Linked DNA regions of Homo sapiens: region 1 is linked to region 2. The links come from fine-mapping of genetic effects on plasma protein levels. A gene starts in region 2. The other region holds a variant in brackets. All regions are shown on one strand. Distances are from middle to middle.

Region 1 (8,573 bases), 230 kb before region 2:
AACTGACATCTTCCAATCCATGAATACAGTATCTGTATTTATTTTACTGTTCTTTAATTGCTTTCACCAGGATTTTCTAGATTTTAGCATACCTATCCTGAATATTGTTTTTGTTAGATTTATATCTAAGAATTTGTGGGTTTCGGTGCTACTGAAAAGGCTATTGCTCTCTAAATTTCAAAGTCCATATGTTCATTGCTAGCATGAAGAAATACAATTGACTTTGTATCTTGCAACCTTACTAAACTCACTTATTAGTCCTAGAAACTTTTTAATGATCCTTCGGGTTTTTCTACAAAGACAATAAAGTTACACGTGAAAAGACATTGTTTCCTTTCTTCCTTTTAAATCTTTTTGCCTTTTTTTTTCTTGCCTTATTGTACTATAGGACTTTCCATATGAAGTCAGATAGGAGTCATAAGAGAGAACATCTTGCATTGTTTTTTATCTTAAGGGGAAAGTGTTTAGTTTTTCACCAGTAAGTGTGTTGCTAGCTATAGCCTTTTGTAGATGCCCTTTTTGAGGTTAAGAAAATTGCCTTCTATTCATAGTTTGCAGATAGTTTTAATCATGAATAGATGATTAATTTTTAAAGTGCTTTTTGTAAATCTATTGAAATAATCATCGTTTTTCTTTTCCTTGGTTCTGTAAATATATTTAATTTTAATTTCATTGGTTGATTTTTCCAGTGTTGAACTAGCCTTGCATTTTTTTGTTTTGTTTTTTTGTTTGTTTGTTTGTTTTTGGAAGGCTTTTAACTATAACTTCAATTTCCCTAGAAGATATGGGATTATTGAAGATATAATATTTCTTCTTGAATGAATTTTAGTATGTCTGTCCTTCGAGGAATTGATTCATTTCACCTAAGTTGTCAAATTTATGGGCACAGAGTTGTTTGTTGCACTACCTTATTATTCTTTTAATATCTGTAGGGTCAGCAGTGATGTCCCTTCTTTCATTTCTGATATTGATAATTTGTATCTTCTTTTTTCTTGGTCAGTCTGCCTAGAAGTTCACTAATTTTGCTGATCTTTCAAAGAACCAGCTTTTGGTTTGATTGATATATCCAAATTGCTTTTTTGTTTCAAATGTATTGATTTTTGCTCTTATTATGTTCTTCCTTCTGCTTGCACTAGTTTTAATTTGTTCTTCTTTATCTAGTTTTTTTCTTTTTAGGGTGGATGCTTACCTTACTGATTGAAGACCTTTCCTCTTTTGTAGTGTAAGCATTTAACTCTATAAATTTCCATCTATACACTACTTTAGCTTCATTTCCCAAATTGTGATATGTTGTAGTTCTTTTTCATTCAGTTCAAAACGCTTTTTTAATTGCCTTAAGACTTCCTCTGACATATGGTTTATTTAGATATGTGTTGTTTCATCTCCATACATTTGAAGATTTTCCACTTATATTTCTATTATTGATTTCTGGCTTAATTCCATTATAGTTCATGACCATGCTTTCTATGGTTTCTAGTCTTTTAAGGTTGTTAAGTTTGCTTTATGGCCCAGAACATAGTATCATTTGGAGAATGTTTCATGTGCACTTTAGAAAGAAGTGTTGTCATGTAAAGTATACTATAAATATCAACTGGGTCAAGTTGGTTGATAATGTTGCTCCAGTCATCTATATTTTTGATGATTTTCTTTCCATTTGTTCTATCATTTACTGAAAAAGGAGCACTGAAGTTTTCAACTGTAATTGTGAAACTATCTATTTCACTTTTTGATTCTATCAGCTTTTGCATCATGTATTTTGAAACTCTGTTGTTAGGTACGTACATGTTTAGCATTGTTATGTCTTCTTGGAAAATCAAGCCCTTTATAATTATTTGATGTTCCTTTTTATCCCAGATAATAATCATTGTTCTAAAAGTCTCACTTGTCTGATAGTAATATAAAGACTTCAGCTTTATTTTGATTAGTGTTTGCACAGCATATCTTTTTCTATTCTATTACTTTTAACCTATCTGTCTTTATAACTAAAGTGGGTTTCTTACAGAAAGTGTATAGCTGGTTCTTAATTTTTCATACAATCTGACAATCTCCATCTTTTAACTGGTATGTTTAGACCATTCACATTTAATGTGATTATAGATATGGTCAAATTAAAATCTATTTTGCTAGCTGTTTTTTTGTTCCTTCTGTTTTTTTCTTCTTTTCTTTTATTTTTCTGACTTCTCTCGTTAGCCTGGTTTGGGGGTGTGTGGAGGAAATGGTTTCTATTGTTCTGATTAAGCTGTAGTCTTAGGCAAGCACTATATCACTGAGTCCTGAAGCAGCAGCCTTCCCAGTGATCCCATCCCTCCCCTGCTTCACTTCTGAATCCAGAATGTATATCCATCCTTTCCCTAGGTGTTAAGATTTTTTTCCCTGTTCCCTTATCTCAGATGTAATGGGATTTCACCAGTATCCAAAGAGTGATAATGTTTGCTCCCTTCTACATACATGTCACACTAATTAAGGCTTTTGTTCATAGGGGAGGTAGGCAAGAAGGGTCCAGGTAGAATTTCTCACCCCTCTCACAGCAGTTTCTTTTCCTCTCCTCCAGCAATTCACTACAAGGGAGATTTTCTGTAGACTCTCCCAACCATTTTTGTGAACCTGTGATGGGGTTCATGGAGAAATGAGTCTAAGAAAGAAAGTGTGATCTCCTTTTATTTATTATCCCTAGGGCTTTGCCCGCTTCTACTAGAGTTCATTAAGCCAGATTCTGCATATTCAACAACCACCTTAGCTGAATTCATATAGGTATGTTTCTTGCTTAGGTAAGTCAGAGCTCATATCTCATTTCTCCCTGAAGATACCTATCTCTTCCTCGATTTTGGGCCTACTGGGTACCCAGCAACCTTAGGACTCCAGTGAGCTCAAGAAAAGTTGTGAACTTTCTATTCGTAAAGATTTTTTTTCACCATAAGTTTAGGAACAATCCTTCCCAGCTGTCTACATCTTTGAGAAGAAACTAGAAGTCTACCTTCTTATAGGTACTTTTGCATCTTTTGCAACAGCAAACAGAAGAAGGTACAGCAGTTGGTCAGGGTAATCACTATTCTCTTGGAAACTTGCTTAAAGAGCTTTAGGAATGACAGATGTTCCAAAAACACCTCTATCTGTTGTTTTTGAGAAATGTAAGATATACGGGGAAAATCCTATAGGAGTTAAGTAAAGTACAAATAATGTACCAATTTTTCAAAAAGTGGAGGGCAGAATCTGTATAAACTATCAGTCAGTTATAATTCAGGACAACTGTCTTGTTGAAAGCATCTACCAGCCTGCAATTGCCTGGCAAAGAATATGATGCCACATAGTAAACACCATGGATGGTGAAGAATAAAATAACTCTAGAGGCTTTCTAGTCCACTTAATTTCAGAATTGTTCATACATGTCACCATTTAGTGAGAAATATGACAGGCAACTAATTACTCAAAATTAGGCTAATGACAAAAACATTATACTTATGTTTTATTATTTATTCTAGTTTCCCCAAAGGTAAGTCTTGTCATTAATCATTAACTACTCCATATATTATTATTATTAAAAATGATAATGAAACAACTACAATTTAGTGACCACTCACTACTAGCCAAAGACTATGCTTAGCTAATAGCAAACATGTTCTCATTTCACCTTCACAACAACTCAGTGAGAGAAGTGGGACTCAGAGGGACTAAGAAACTCGTCAAATCCACAGAATTAACATATGTTAGAACTAGAATTAATTCCCAGGTCAGATTTTAAAGTCCTTACTTTTAACTTCTGAGTCAGACTATCCCAGATGATGTTAATTATTTCCTGTGGCCCATTGAGTATTTCCTGCTGTCATTTACAATGCTGGAAAAGGTCCATCCTTGCATAAGAACACAAAAGCATCAGAAATGCCTTATTAGCTGAGTCCAGTTGTCCAGCCACAAGGGCATTCAGTTTCAGAATGGCAACAAGGGACTATTTGTTGAGTGAACATGACAACTGACCTTTCTGAGATTGGTTTGCAAAGAGGGCATAACTGTCCTCCATGTTTTTTAAATGTCTCTCTCACTCTCTCTCTGTATACATATATATGTATGTAAATATGTGTGTTTGTGTAAAATATTCTTTTCTTTCCTGTAATCCTGTATTATCTAGCAATTTAGTCTTCTTGAAATTATATATATATTTATATTATATATTATATATATTTTATATATATAATATATATAAAATAAACTACAACTAACTCTAAGAATAAAGAGCCCTCTATAAGATTTCTACCATCTCTAATGAGGAAACATAATGTGATAT[T/C]CTAAGATCATCTTAGATACCTGGAGCATAGCAACAGCACAGCAATGAGTTTCAAAGACAACAATGTGAACAGCTACCACTAAATCTTCAGTTAGGGGAGTCGAGCTATACTCAAGTATATTTCACCTAACCTAAACAAACCTGTGTAAAATAAGATAGCAGACTACATAGGAAAGACAGTAACAAGCAATGGCAATTGCCTGCAAGTAAAAAGGAAGAGTGCTACAAAGAACAAGGAGAAGTAGTCAATTCAGGGAAATTCAGTTCAAGGGTAAATGTAAATCACCCTCTGTAACCCCAAGATGGAGGGTCACCTGCCAGAATCTCTGAACTATAATACAAAGCAGTAACTAATGCTTCCCAACCTATTGCAAGTCAAGATGCACACAGAAAATCAATCTATTCAGATGACTCATGTGCGAGTCAAGATGCACACAGAAAATGAATCTATTCAGATGACTCAGCAAGAGGCAACTGATCCAGGGGCTTCTGTCACCCCTCAAGCCCGGCCTGGCTTCCCTGAGAGGTGGAGATGGAGGGATCATATTTCCACACACCTGTAATCCATTCACAACACACCACTGAGCTTTTGTCCACCAGGTGGAAAGCTCTGCAATAACTTGTGTCAACAAGAAGTAGTTCCATTATGTTTGGTCTACTCCACTTAAGAAGGTGGGAAAATATAAAATATCACAGAGTAATATTTCCATCAAAAGTAGTTAAATGTTAAAACATTTTGATGCTTAGAGGGCAAGCTTCAGTTAGAAAAATTAACTCTTGGAATGCCTCATTTCCTGATGATGCACAAATACAAAGTGTGACTACTCTGTCTTTTATTGGGGTTCAAGGTATATCTATCAAATCATTCTGTTATCTCAAGGTATTTGTGGAGTCTGAATTAACCATATCAGTACCCATGATGGTTTTAAAGTATTATTATACTGGATGACCATATGCTCTTATGATGGGACACACTGGAGGTAAAGGGATTTCTATTAATAATTACACTATAATCACTGGTATAAGCCAGGGCTGTCCTAGGAAAACCATTTGGTCACCCCAGTATTAGATCATTCTCCCTATTTGGTCCTAACCTTTTTACAACAAAGAAAGCTATGTTTATATTCTTCATTAAAATCATAAATAAAAATAAAACAGTGCATGCTAGTAGCAATAAACTAAAAACTGAAATTTATAAAACAGAAAATAAAAGTGGTACCATTTATAATACCTGGAATCATTCTTTCCAGAGATAACCTCCATTAACAGTCTTCTTTCCAGTCCTCTTTATGTGGGGAGAACTGATCCCCCAACATTATTATCCAAAGTCAGACAAATGGATACTGGGTGGCCAAAAATAATAAATATATATTCTATACACAGAGTTCACATGGAGCCTACCCCTCTCCTGCAGTCCTGGGGTACAGCATGCAATTTGGTTCTAAACTGCTGGGCACAACACTTTCTTCCTGGTCATGATGTTGGTTCAAGGTGGTCACAGGACTCTTTTAGAGCCAGTGAGACACAAAGAAACTTTTGCTCAGACTTCTAGGAAGACAATCTAGGTACTTATCAAATTGAAACTGAGAGGATCGAAGGCCTTGACCTGCACTATCCAAAATGGTAGCCACTAGCCATATGTAGCTATTGAACACTTGAAATGTGACCAGTACAGAAATGTGATGTAAGTACAAAAGGCACACTGCATCTCAAAGACTCAGAAGGAAAAAGGAATGTAAAATATCTCACCAATAATTTTTATTTTGATTACATGTTGAAGTGATGATGCATATGGCTCATATTTTCTCTCTAGTGGACAATGCCAGTCTAAAACATTGAACCATTGGTACAGCCAGGCCTGAGGGTATCCCTGGTCATGGACTTTTCAGATATGTCAACTAATAATATCTATTTTGCTTAAGAAAGTTCTGATTGGACATTCTAGCACTTGCAACTGAGAATCCTAACTGGTGCATTGTATATGTAGAGTCATGCCATACATTCAAGACTGAACAACCAATCATGAGCACTTGTTCATGCCAGCACCTTAAGAGTAGTGTGCCCAGATCTGCACAAAGTATTCTATATGTGGACAAATCAACCATTGTTTTTATCTGTTAACACCACTGTATGTGTCTGGGGTGTGTCACCAGCTTTCTTTAAGGTCTTCCAGTGCCAAAGTCTTCTTCTCCTGGCCTTTGCACATACTTTACTTTCTGCATGGAACACGCTTTCCTCTCTTTCACTTGCCTGGTTCCCTCTCATTACTCAGGACGCAATTTAAATGCCATCTCCTCAGAGCTGAGTTTCCTGACCACTCTATTTTGAGTAGGTCACCCCTGATATTGTCTCTCATAGCACCACATCTCCCCTATATGGCATGGACCAAAATATGTATTAACCTCTGTAGAAGGCTGTTTAACATCTACCTTCTCCTTCCCCACCATACCATACCGTGCATCAATGCAGAAGCCATGTATATGTGGTTCACCCATTTGTCCCCAGCACCTGGAACAGTAACTAACACATAGTAAATGCTCAATCAACATCTACTGAATGCCAGGAATGAGTGTTAATGAGTCCAGGAGAAGGAGGAAGGTCAGGGGAAGATGAAGTAATGGGGGAAGGGAACTAAGATAATTCAGTGTAACCAAACCACTGATGAATGTTGATTAATGCCATCTAGAACACTCAAAAAGAAAGTAAGGATGAGAACTGACAGAGGAAGAGCAAGTCCAGAATGGAAGGATTTGAGCAGTTAGTGGCTGCCTGGACCTTCCTCCAGGCATAAAAGCAAATGGTCAGAGATACAAATGATGAAGCCTGCAGTTCAAATGCATTTCTGAACTCCACACAATGAAAATTATGCTGAGATTTTGCTTTCTGTTAGTGACAATCTGGTTCTTAGTCTCATTCTCATAACCTAAATACAAAACTATGGGGGAATCTGAGTCCTACTCTAGGAATTTTCATCAGACTCTGCTCAAAGGCAAGATCACATTCTTTGACTTCTGCATTGTGGAGCTTCTCATGAGGCTGATTGAAATGCTGCTGTTCATATCAAAGCCAGCCTTTCTGGACTTCATCGAATATCTAGATCCCTTCTATTTTCCTCTTCACATTCTTGTTCTCACACATGATCTTTGCCACTACCCTGCTTGCTTACCTCAGCTTACCTTATACCTCGGAGGCAGCAGTAACGGTTTTTACTAAAACCCTTTAGGATTGATAGATGATAGCCTCTAATTATTTCTCTGGAGATAAGGCCTCTCTTTAAATGAGAATGGCTCTTCTTTTTGTTTTATTGTGATATATATTTTTAATTCATTTATTTTATAATGGAAAGTTGATCAATACAAAATAATTCATAAACCAAGCACCCAATTTAAGATCTAGCATTTTATTTTGGAAGCCCTCTGTGTGTCCCTCTTTGGTTTCATTTCATTTTTTAAAGAATGAAAACCACTTTGTTAGTGAACTCCAGAATTTGGGAATAAAGGGGTTAGAACCTTAGAATTTAAAGATGTGGTGCTGTCCACCAGGCAGGTGCTGACGAGTCTCCGGAAAGGTGGGAGAGCCACCGCAGTCTCTCAGAGGAAAGAAGAAAGTGCTTAGTCCTTTTTCTTTTTATTTTTCCTTCTCCCACTTTGATCTCTCTTCTTTCTTCCTTTTTAAGAATTACTACACCTCTTCTCTTTGCTGGTAAGACGAGGGAAGTCAACAGAGCTCCACGATTCTGTCTCCTTCTTTTTCTAACAGATGGTTTCCATTAGGGCTTACCAGGTATTTTCTCTGAACAGAATCAAACATGCATTGAAAAAGTAAACATCAGGATCATAGAACTAGCAGCCCTTTATTTATTACATAAATACAAAGATTTTATAGCTGGAAAAGAACTTAGAGATAACTAAATCCAATCTTCTTGTTTCAGACCTAAGAAAACCAAGACTCAGTACTTGCCTGAGTTATTAAGGTTATTAAGCTAAATATATGTCTTCCCTCTCCAAATCATTGTTTTTATTTCCCATTTTTCTTTTTTTCTTTTTCTTTATTTTTTATTTCCCATTTTTCAATTCTCATTATTAATATATTTTCATTATTGATAATTTGATCACATTATTGATTATTTTACTTTAGTCTGAGGCACCTAGCCTTAGGCTATTAGTATTTTCATTTAGCAATATTAATTACAAAATGATTTTTGAATGATACCTAAAAGATACCTCACATTAATGTAAAATACTTTGTTTTATTCTTAACAGCATTTATCTCAGAAGTCACTAAATATTCAATC
Region 2 (8,573 bases):
TCCTTTTTGTCTATTTTTGGTTTTGTTGCCTGTGGTTTTGGGATCATAGGCGAGAAATCTTTGCCAAGACCAATGTCAAGAAGTTTTCCTCTATGTTTCCTCTGGTACATTTTTTGTTGTTGTTGTTACTTTGTTTTGTTTTGGGTTTTGGTGTTTGTTTGTTTGTTTTTGGCAGGGTCTCACTGTGTTGTGTAGGCTGGCCTCAAATTCCTGGGCTCCAGTGATCCTCTTGCCTCAAGCTTCCGAGTAGCTGGGACTACAGGCATTCACCACTGCTCCTGCCTTCTTCCAGTAGCTTTACAGTTTCAGGTCTTAAGACTTTAATCCATTTTGAGTTAATTTTTGTACATGAGGTTAGATAAGTGTCTAATTTCATTTTTCTGCATGTCCCAATACCATTTATTGAAGAGACTGTCCTTTCCCCATTGTGTGATCTTGGCACTTTTGTCAAAGATCAGATTGTAAATGTGTAGATTTATTTCTGGGCTCTCTCTATTCTGTTCCATTAGTCTCGTTGTCTGCTTTGTGCCAGTACTATGCTGTTCTACAGCTCTGTAGTAGATTTTGAGATCAAGTAGTGTGATGCTTCCAGCTTTTTCTTTTTTGCTCAACATTGCTTTGGCTATTTGGGGAATTTAGGATTGTTTTTCCTATTTCTGTGAAAAAATGTAATTGGAATTTTGATAGGGATTGCATTAAATCTGTGGATCATTCTGGATAGTATAAACACTTTAAAAATATTAATTCTTCCAATCCATGAATATGGAATACCTTTCCATTTATTTGTATCTTGTTTAATTTCTTTCATCAATGTTTTATGTTTTTCTAGTGTTTGATTCTTTTCCATCATTGGTTAAATTTATTCCTAAGATGTGTGTTGTTGTTGTTGCTGTTTAAATGGGCTTGTTTTCTTGATTTCTTTTTCAGATCATTCATTGTTAATTATAGAAATGCTACTGATTTTTGTATGTTGATTTTGTAATCTGCAACTTTACTAAATTTGCTTATTAGTTCTAATAGCTTTTTAGTAGAGTCTCTAGAGTTTTCTATACATAAGATGATGTCATTTGCAAATACAGACAATTTAACTTCTTCCTTTCCAAGTTGGATGCTTTTTTATTTTTTTTCTTGCCTAATTGCTCTGGTTAGGGCTTCCAGTACAGCACTATGTTGAATAAAAGTGGCAAGAATGGGCACCCTTGTCTGGTTCCTGATGTTAAAGGGATAGCTTCCAATGCTTTTGAGTATTCTCCCTTTTTCTTAGTCTAGCTAAAGATTTTGCAATTTTATTTATCTTTTCAAAAACCCAACTCTTACTTTTGTTCATCTTTTCTATTGTTTTTCTGGTTTCTATTTCAGTTATTTCTGCTCTGATCTTTTCTTCGTTAACTTTGGGCTTAGTTTGTTCTTTTTAGTTCCTTGAGGTAAAACAATAGGTTGTTTATATGAAATCTTTCTTCTTTTTTGATGTAGGCATTTATTGCTATAAATTTCCCTCTTTGAACTGCTTTTGCTGCACCCCATAAGCTTTTGTATGCTGTATTTTCGTTTTCACTTGTCTCAAGATACTTTTCAATTTCCCTTTTGATTTCTTATTTGACCCAGTGGTTGTTCAAAACCAGGGGAGTTTTAAAAATTTTTCCAGCATTTTTTCATTTACTCTTCACTCAACCCTATGATATATGGATTCTTATCTTCCCCATTTTACAGATGAGAAAACTGAGGAGAGAACAGGCTAGGTAGCCTGCCTAAAGGCACATAGCTGTAAAAGACAGAGCCAGGATTTATACCCAAAGAGTCTGGCTCCAGAGTTAGGGCATTAAATGATTCTACTCTACCATACATCTCACTTAATCCCCCGCCAACCTTGGGAGGTAGGGTCTGTTATCATCCTCACTTTCAGATGAGAAACCAAGCCTCAGAGAGGGACACTCAGCTTGTAAATGACACAGTAAGGCTCAAACTCAGTCCTGTCTGCCTTCCCAAGCTCCACTCTGTCCTGACTGAACCATTCCTATGTCTTTGTGTCTGTCTGCACCATTCCCACCTTCTGCAACACTCTCTTTCTCCCTACTTCCACACTGGTTTTGAAATTCCCTGCATCCCAGTGCAAATCTCGAGGGGTGATGCAAATGCACTTGCCCTTCCCCTTTCACAAAGCCTTACTGATCTCAACTAGAAGAGACCTTATGTTTTGAATTCTGAAGCCCATGGAATCCCCCTTGAGACACTTCCCCTCCACCCCACTCCTCAAGATGGACCCTTGGGAGTTCTGCCTCCTCTTTTTTTTGTTCCCTCTACCTTTGCTAATAGGCCTCACTTCCACACCCTGCCTCCTCACCCTGTCTGAACCACTTTCAGCCTGATCCTGGTCCCCTTTTCTCTAGTTTGTTTTACCACTTATTGAATTCCTCTTACGTTTGTGTCAGGCCTGAACTGAGGGCTTTATATGCATTATTTCACCCAGCCTGGGAGGCAGGAAATATTAGTGTCCCAGTTTTATAGAGGAAGAGGTGGAGGCACAGAGAGGGAAGGTGACTTTCCAAAGATCACACAGTACTTGGAAAAGCTGTGGCTGGGCCCCTGCCCTGTTTTATATCCTCATGCAATTATCCATGTGGGTCTGGAGGTCAGAGAGACTTCCCCAGGCACAGAAGCCATTACACAACAGGGTGGCCACAGCTGTGCAAGGGTTGTGGGTGATCACAGTGCCCAGAAAGCACCAAGGTCAAGGTCACAATGGGAGCACTGAGACTCTTCCTGGGGGGTTGAGCAAGTTGTCTTGAGGAGAGGCCGTGGAATGAAAGCCTTGGACCCTGAGTAGGAGTTTGCCTGGACAGTAGTGTGGGAAGACGGGCAGTGGAGAGGTGAGCAGCAGCAGAGGAAATGGCAAGAGGTGTGGTTTGGGATGTGGTCAGGGCTGGAGGCCACACTAGCATGGCTGGTGGGAGCCAAGTCCTTGAATACCCAAGAGTTTGGTGCCAGTCTTCTAGTGGGCCAAGTGCCTGTATTGGTTGTCCAAACCAGCTCAGACTGGCTCCCGTGCTCACATGTGGCTCAGTGAACTTGGTGACCTCAGGAGATGTGAAATAAAAGCAAACCCTCCCCACCACCCGCTGCCTTGGTGGTTTGGAGATCCAGATCCTCTCCACGCCTCTGTGTTGTGGCAGCCCCAGGGACAGTGAGCAGCTTAGCAGGGAGAGTGGGGTCCTTCGCTTAGTACATTACATCCCGAGCTTCCAGGGCAGGATAGACTAGGGGATGAAGGAAGGAAGGAAGGCAACACCCAGAGTACTCTGGAATCTGGTTTATTAGCTGGGGGTTGAAGTGGCAGGGAAGGACAGTGTTGGGGCGAGGCCTCCAGTCACCCAGTTCCTCCCCGGGCTGCTCCTCCCGACTGGACCAGGGTAGGTTGAGCTGCTGGGAGTGGAGTATCATGGGTGGCCCTTTCTGCAGGAGAAAAGAGCTTCCCTGCTGCGGAGGGGAGGCAGGCAGTGGGCAAGCCCCCCTAGCATCCGGTACAGGCAGCGTAGGCACAGATTTCACATGTGCCCGGGTCCTCAGCGATTTCCTCTGCACAACAGAGATGGAGCCTCGTGAGAACCAGCATTTCCTCGCGAGGCCCCTGCCGCCCTTGGCCCAGAGCTTGTACGTCACCACCCAGCCCCAGGAGAATCTCAGCAGGCCCGTACTCTGACCTACTGGGCTTTTCGCCCCAAACCAGGGCACACAGACCACTCAAACCAACCAATCAAAGCAGAGATTCCACCAGAAAGAGAGGAAACTAAGACCAGATGAATGGTCTTAGTTCCCAAACCTCAGCAGTTACAACTTGGAATTGAAGTGGGCATGGAACAGACCCACCAATCAGAGCCAAGCTCCCTAGTTCCACCAGTCAGAGCTGAGCCCTTCCTCCAAATCCCACCAATCAGAGCACATCTCTTCCTCAAGTGCCACCACAGTATTCCCGAACCCCACCAATCAGAGAGGAAGGAGGCTGCTCACCCAGCCTCTGAAGTATCTCCTGGGCATTGGGCTCCTTGCAGAGAGGCTTGAGTTCTTCTGGAAAGTTCGGGTTGCTACAGAGGATGGGAACCACAGGTTCACCAGGGATGGGTGCAAAGTTCCTGAGTTTCCCAACCCTGGGCTCCTGGGGCTCCTGGAGGTCTTTGAGCTTCTTCACTGACTCCAGAGAAAAGGAGAAATTTCCATCCTGGAAGAGAGAAGCCCAGAGCATGAGGCCAGGCTGCAGCCTGCTTCCTGGCTGTGCCCCCCGTGCTGGCCCCGGTCCAGCCCAGTGGTGCTCACAGGCAGTGTTCGTGGCATATGGGAGCCAGGCGATCCACAGTGGGGCACTGTGAGGGGCAGAGTTCAGGCCCCACGTCCTGGCTTGGCTCCGTGATGCTGGACACTCTGGAACCCGCAAATTCTGCATGTTGTATGGGGAATGGAGAAAATGGGTGTGAAGCTCCAGGAACACCATAGGTGCCTAATGAGTAGGAGCCAGTGTGCTGATTTTTAGGGAGAGGCAAAGGACCAGCACCCAGGCATCGTAGTTCCACGTGGCCAAGCCCAGGCTGTCTTTCCCCTGCCTGAGAGCGGTGCGGCTGATTACTGGGCCCCCAGCTCCAGCCTGCAGCCTGGTTTTGGTTTGAGAAGCAATAAAAGGCCTCCCGGAATCTGGCTTTGATAGAGATCAGGGCCCCCGCTAGGTGCCAGCTTGGCCTGTCGCCAGCATTGGCACTGGTAGGCATACCCATCTGTCAGGACCTCCAGGGTGTCCATGTGGTTCCTGGGACCCACTGAGGAGTAAGGTCTGGATTTAAATCCAGCTCCTGCACTTCCCACAGCCATGTGCCCATGGCCTGTTACAGAACCTTTGTGAGGCTCAGTTTTCCCCTCTGTAAAATGGGACTAATGATCCCTTTCTTCCAGGTTGATAGTGGAGCCACAGTGAGGGGCTGGGGAAGGAGCCGGCACATAGGACACTCAGTAAATTGGCCAACTCCCCGCCTTCCCCATATGGTTATTCCTCTTCCCTCCACTGGGTTTCTTTCTCCTCCAAAGTTGAAGGGAAAGGTGTGTGTGTGGCTGGACTGAGCAGGAGCTCCTCGAAGAAGGCCAAGCCTGGGACACACACCCTCAATCCAGCCCCAAAGAGGAGGTACTCTCTCAGGGGACCAGACCTGGGCACTAGGGGCAGGGAGCCAGCTGGGCCGGGGTAGGGACACAGGACTCACCTGCACGGTGACCCCTCCTGCCAAGGCGGCCCAGGCCCCAAGGAGGCACAGTGCGGAGAGCAGGAAGGCATTCATGGCAGCAGTGCCCGAGAGAGGGGTGGCTGTTCTGGATGCCAGGGGGAAGCGGCGGGACTTTTAAAGAGGGCAGGTTACTGAGTAACCTGGAAGCCTCTGTCAGTCTCATCTGCTCACCTGTCAGGCCTTATCAGATAAGGCTCGAGACAGCCCTAGGAGATAAGAGCCAGGCAGGGGGGGCCCCGGCCCCTCCCTGAGCACCTACTTTGACCCACAGCCGGGCTGGGTCCTGCATTCATTCACCAACAAGGCACATTCACTCACGACTGCCCTGTGCTGCTGTGTGGGGCCGGCAGACCCTGCCCTTGAGGAGGGGGGCCCAGCCCGACAGTGAAACGCAGGGCGATTAGGGTGGGGTGATCCTAGGATGAGGTGACGGGGCTGCACTGGGGGCTGAGCTCTGGAGAATGGGTGGAAGTTTTCCCAGAGAAGGGACTGAGGACAGAAGGCCATTTCATGCCAAAGGGACAGCCAGGAGGTGAGACGGGCCTGGAATATTCAGGGAAATGTGAGAAATTCCACGGGGGAGGCTGCAGGGCAAGTCAGGGTCTGGGTTTGATTGCCGCGACCTCAAGGAAGCCCTCCGCACAGCCTGGGTTCCGTTCCACCTACTGCCCAGTTGTGAGGCGTGTGAACTTGGGCCAATGCTTTCCCCTCTCTGAGTCTCGTTGTCCCTTGTGTCCCCTGTGGGAACCAAAAATAATACCTACCTCATGGGGTAGGTGTGTGGTAGGCATTACTGTTTGGAGAATCAAGTGAGGTTTTAAAAACATTTAGCTCAATGCCTGGCACACAGAAGGTGCTCAGCAGAGGTCCATTCCCATATTATTAGCAGCCACAGCAGCTCCTGGTCCTCCCTGGCCCCTCTGGTGACCTCCTGCCTGTCTGAGTCACAGGCTGTCCCCATCCTGTGCTGGTCCCCATCCTGTCCTGCCTGCCCTGCAGCCTCAGGGTGTCCTCGAATGAGCTCCTCCCCAATCCGCCCGCCCCCCTTGCCCCTGCAGATACAGTCCCCTTTCCGCGGATCTCACTGGGGAATTGCTTGGGTGTGCCCGCGCCCCTATAGACTCTGACCCCATTCAGACTGCGCCCTCAGGGCAGCGTGCATTCACTGTGTGCTGTTGTGAGCAGGAATCCCCAGGACACAGGAGAAAGGGTAGCCCTGGGATTGTCATCTTTCTACTCAGCCAACCTGGCCCGATGCCAGGACAGCCCTAGGGCGGGAGGTTGGGCAGGAATTCCTGGGTGGGGAGAGTCAACACTGAAGAGGGAATTGGAGAGAGCAGGGCCTGACCAGGAGGGAACTGCAGGGACAAGGCCCTCAGGGAGGGGCAGGTAGCTCCTGGCCCAGCTCCCAGGGCAGTCCTCACAGCTGCACTGGATTTCCCACCCCTTTCTGGTGAGTGTGTGTGTGTGTGTGTGTGTGTGTGTGTTAAGGGGGGGTGTGTCTGCGGAGATGTGTATGTCTGTGTATGCCAAGGTGTCTGTATATACCCTGATGGGTGTGTGTAGCCAAGGTGTGTTTGTATGTGTGCTTGTGCTGAAGGTGTGTGTGTGCTGAGGCATGTGTGTACACTGAGGAGTGTATGTGTATATATGCTGAGGTGTATGTGTGTGTATGCTGAGGGGTATATGTGTGTCCGTGTACACCAAGGTATCTGTGTCTGTGCAAGGAGGTGTGCATATATACATCGAGGTGTGTGTGTGTCAGTGTGTATATACACAGGCGCGTGTGTGTACACCGAGGTGTGTGTGTTTGCTGGGATGTGTGTCTGCTGGGGTGTCTGCTGGGGTGTGTGTATGTGCACTGAGGTATGTGTGTGTGTATGCTCATGTGTGTATATGCACTGAGATATGTGTGTGTATGTGCACTGAGGTGTGTGTGTGTATGCTGAGCTGAGTGCATCTGCTGTGTTGTGCGTGTGTGTGCCGAGGTGTGTGTATACACTGAGGTGCATGTATGCGCTGAGGTGTGTGTGTGCTGACGTGTGTGAGTGCTGACGTGTGTGTATACACTGAGGTGCGTATGTGTGCTGAGGTGCGTATGTGTGCTGAGGTGTGTGTGTGCTGACGTGTGTGTATACACTGAGGTGTGTGTGTGTGCTGAGGTGTGTGTGTGTGCTGAGCTGTGTGTGTGCTGATGTGTGTGTATACACTGAGGTGTGTGTGAGTGCTGATGTGTGTGTATACACTGAGGAGCGTGTGTGTGCTGAGGTATGTGTGCGCTGATGTGTGTGTATACACTGAGGTGCGTGTGTGTGCTGAGGTGTGTGTGTGCTGACATGTGTGTATACACTGAGGTGCGTGTATGTGCTGAGGTGTGTGAGTGCTGACGTGTGTGTATACACTGAGGTGTGTGTGCGCTGACGTGTGTGTATACACTGAGGTGTGTGTGCTGACGTGTGTATACACTGTGTGTGTGCTGAGGTGTGTGTGTGTGCTGAGCTGTGTGTGTGCTGATGTGTGTGTATACACTGAGGTGTGTGTGAGTGCTGACATGTGTGTATACACTGAGGAGCGTGTGTGTGCTGAGGTATGTGTGCGCTGATGTGTGTGTATACACTGAGGTGCGTGTGTGTGCTGAGGTGTGTGTGTGCTGACATGTGTGTATACACTGAGGTGCGTGTATGTGCTGAGGTGTGTGAGTGCTGACGTGTGTGTATACACTGAGGTGTGTGTGCGCTGACGTGTGTGTATACACTGAGGTGTGTGTGCTGACGTGTGTATACACTGTGTGTGTGCTGAGGTGTGTGTGTGCTGACGTGTGTGTATACACTGAGGTGCGTGTGTGCTGAAGTGTGTGTATACACTGAGGTGTGCGTGAGTGCTGACGTGTGTGTATACACTGAGGTGTGTGTGAGTGCTGACGTGTGTGTGTGCACTGACGTGTGTGTGTGCTGACGTGTGTGTATACACTGAGGTGTGTGTGCGTGCCTGGACATGTGTGTGTGCCCACCAAGGTCAGCCACACACTGGTCCCCTCGCTGAGGGCAGGTGGGAGTGGGCGTGGGAGTGAGTGGGGTTAGGGGAAGGAATGGGGCTGAGGGTCGGGGCGTGGGACTTGGATGCTGAGCAACAGGATGTCGGGGGATGGAGCTGGGGGAAAGGTGAGGGGCAGGAGTTTCGGAGGCTGGGGTGGGGATGAACACCGGGAGAAGTTCGGGAGTGCGGCTGAGCTCCATGCTAGACTGGAGCCGGGGCTTGCGGAGACCGGAGCGGGGTTGGGATTGGGGTCAATTCGGGCGACACTAAAGTTGG

Alleles and levels. Positions count from the first base shown, and alleles are read on the strand shown. Strength reflects both the effect of a copy and how common the allele is.
In carriers of allele C in region 1, the plasma level of the protein whose gene starts at base 5,348 in region 2 tends to be lower than with T alone (weak association).

The links. A credible set is the group of variants that fine-mapping cannot tell apart. PIP is the posterior inclusion probability: the model's chance that the variant is causal. The UK Biobank Pharma Proteomics Project read protein levels with antibody pairs (Olink). The fine-mapping took linkage between variants from a reference panel, not from the people measured, so its PIPs are less certain.
Region 1: its variant is the best candidate, but not a certain one, in a credible set for the plasma level of the GUCA2A protein (UK Biobank, PIP 0.62).

What each region holds. Positions count from the first base shown.
Region 1 is chr1:41,931,578-41,940,150 of GRCh38, forward strand. It overlaps a transcript of HIVEP3 not described here. Among named protein-coding and RNA genes, the nearest start is that of HIVEP3, 17 kb to the left of the region's middle. The variant T/C (reference allele first, on the strand shown) is at 4,280.
Region 2 is chr1:42,159,398-42,167,970 of GRCh38, forward strand. GUCA2A (guanylate cyclase activator 2A) reads right to left here and starts at 5,348. Exons shown (of 3, transcript NM_033553.3): 1 at 5,241-5,348; 2 at 4,006-4,213; 3 at 3,293-3,573. The coding sequence starts at 5,315. The coding sequence ends at 3,509. RefSeq lists an enhancer at 5,208-6,172.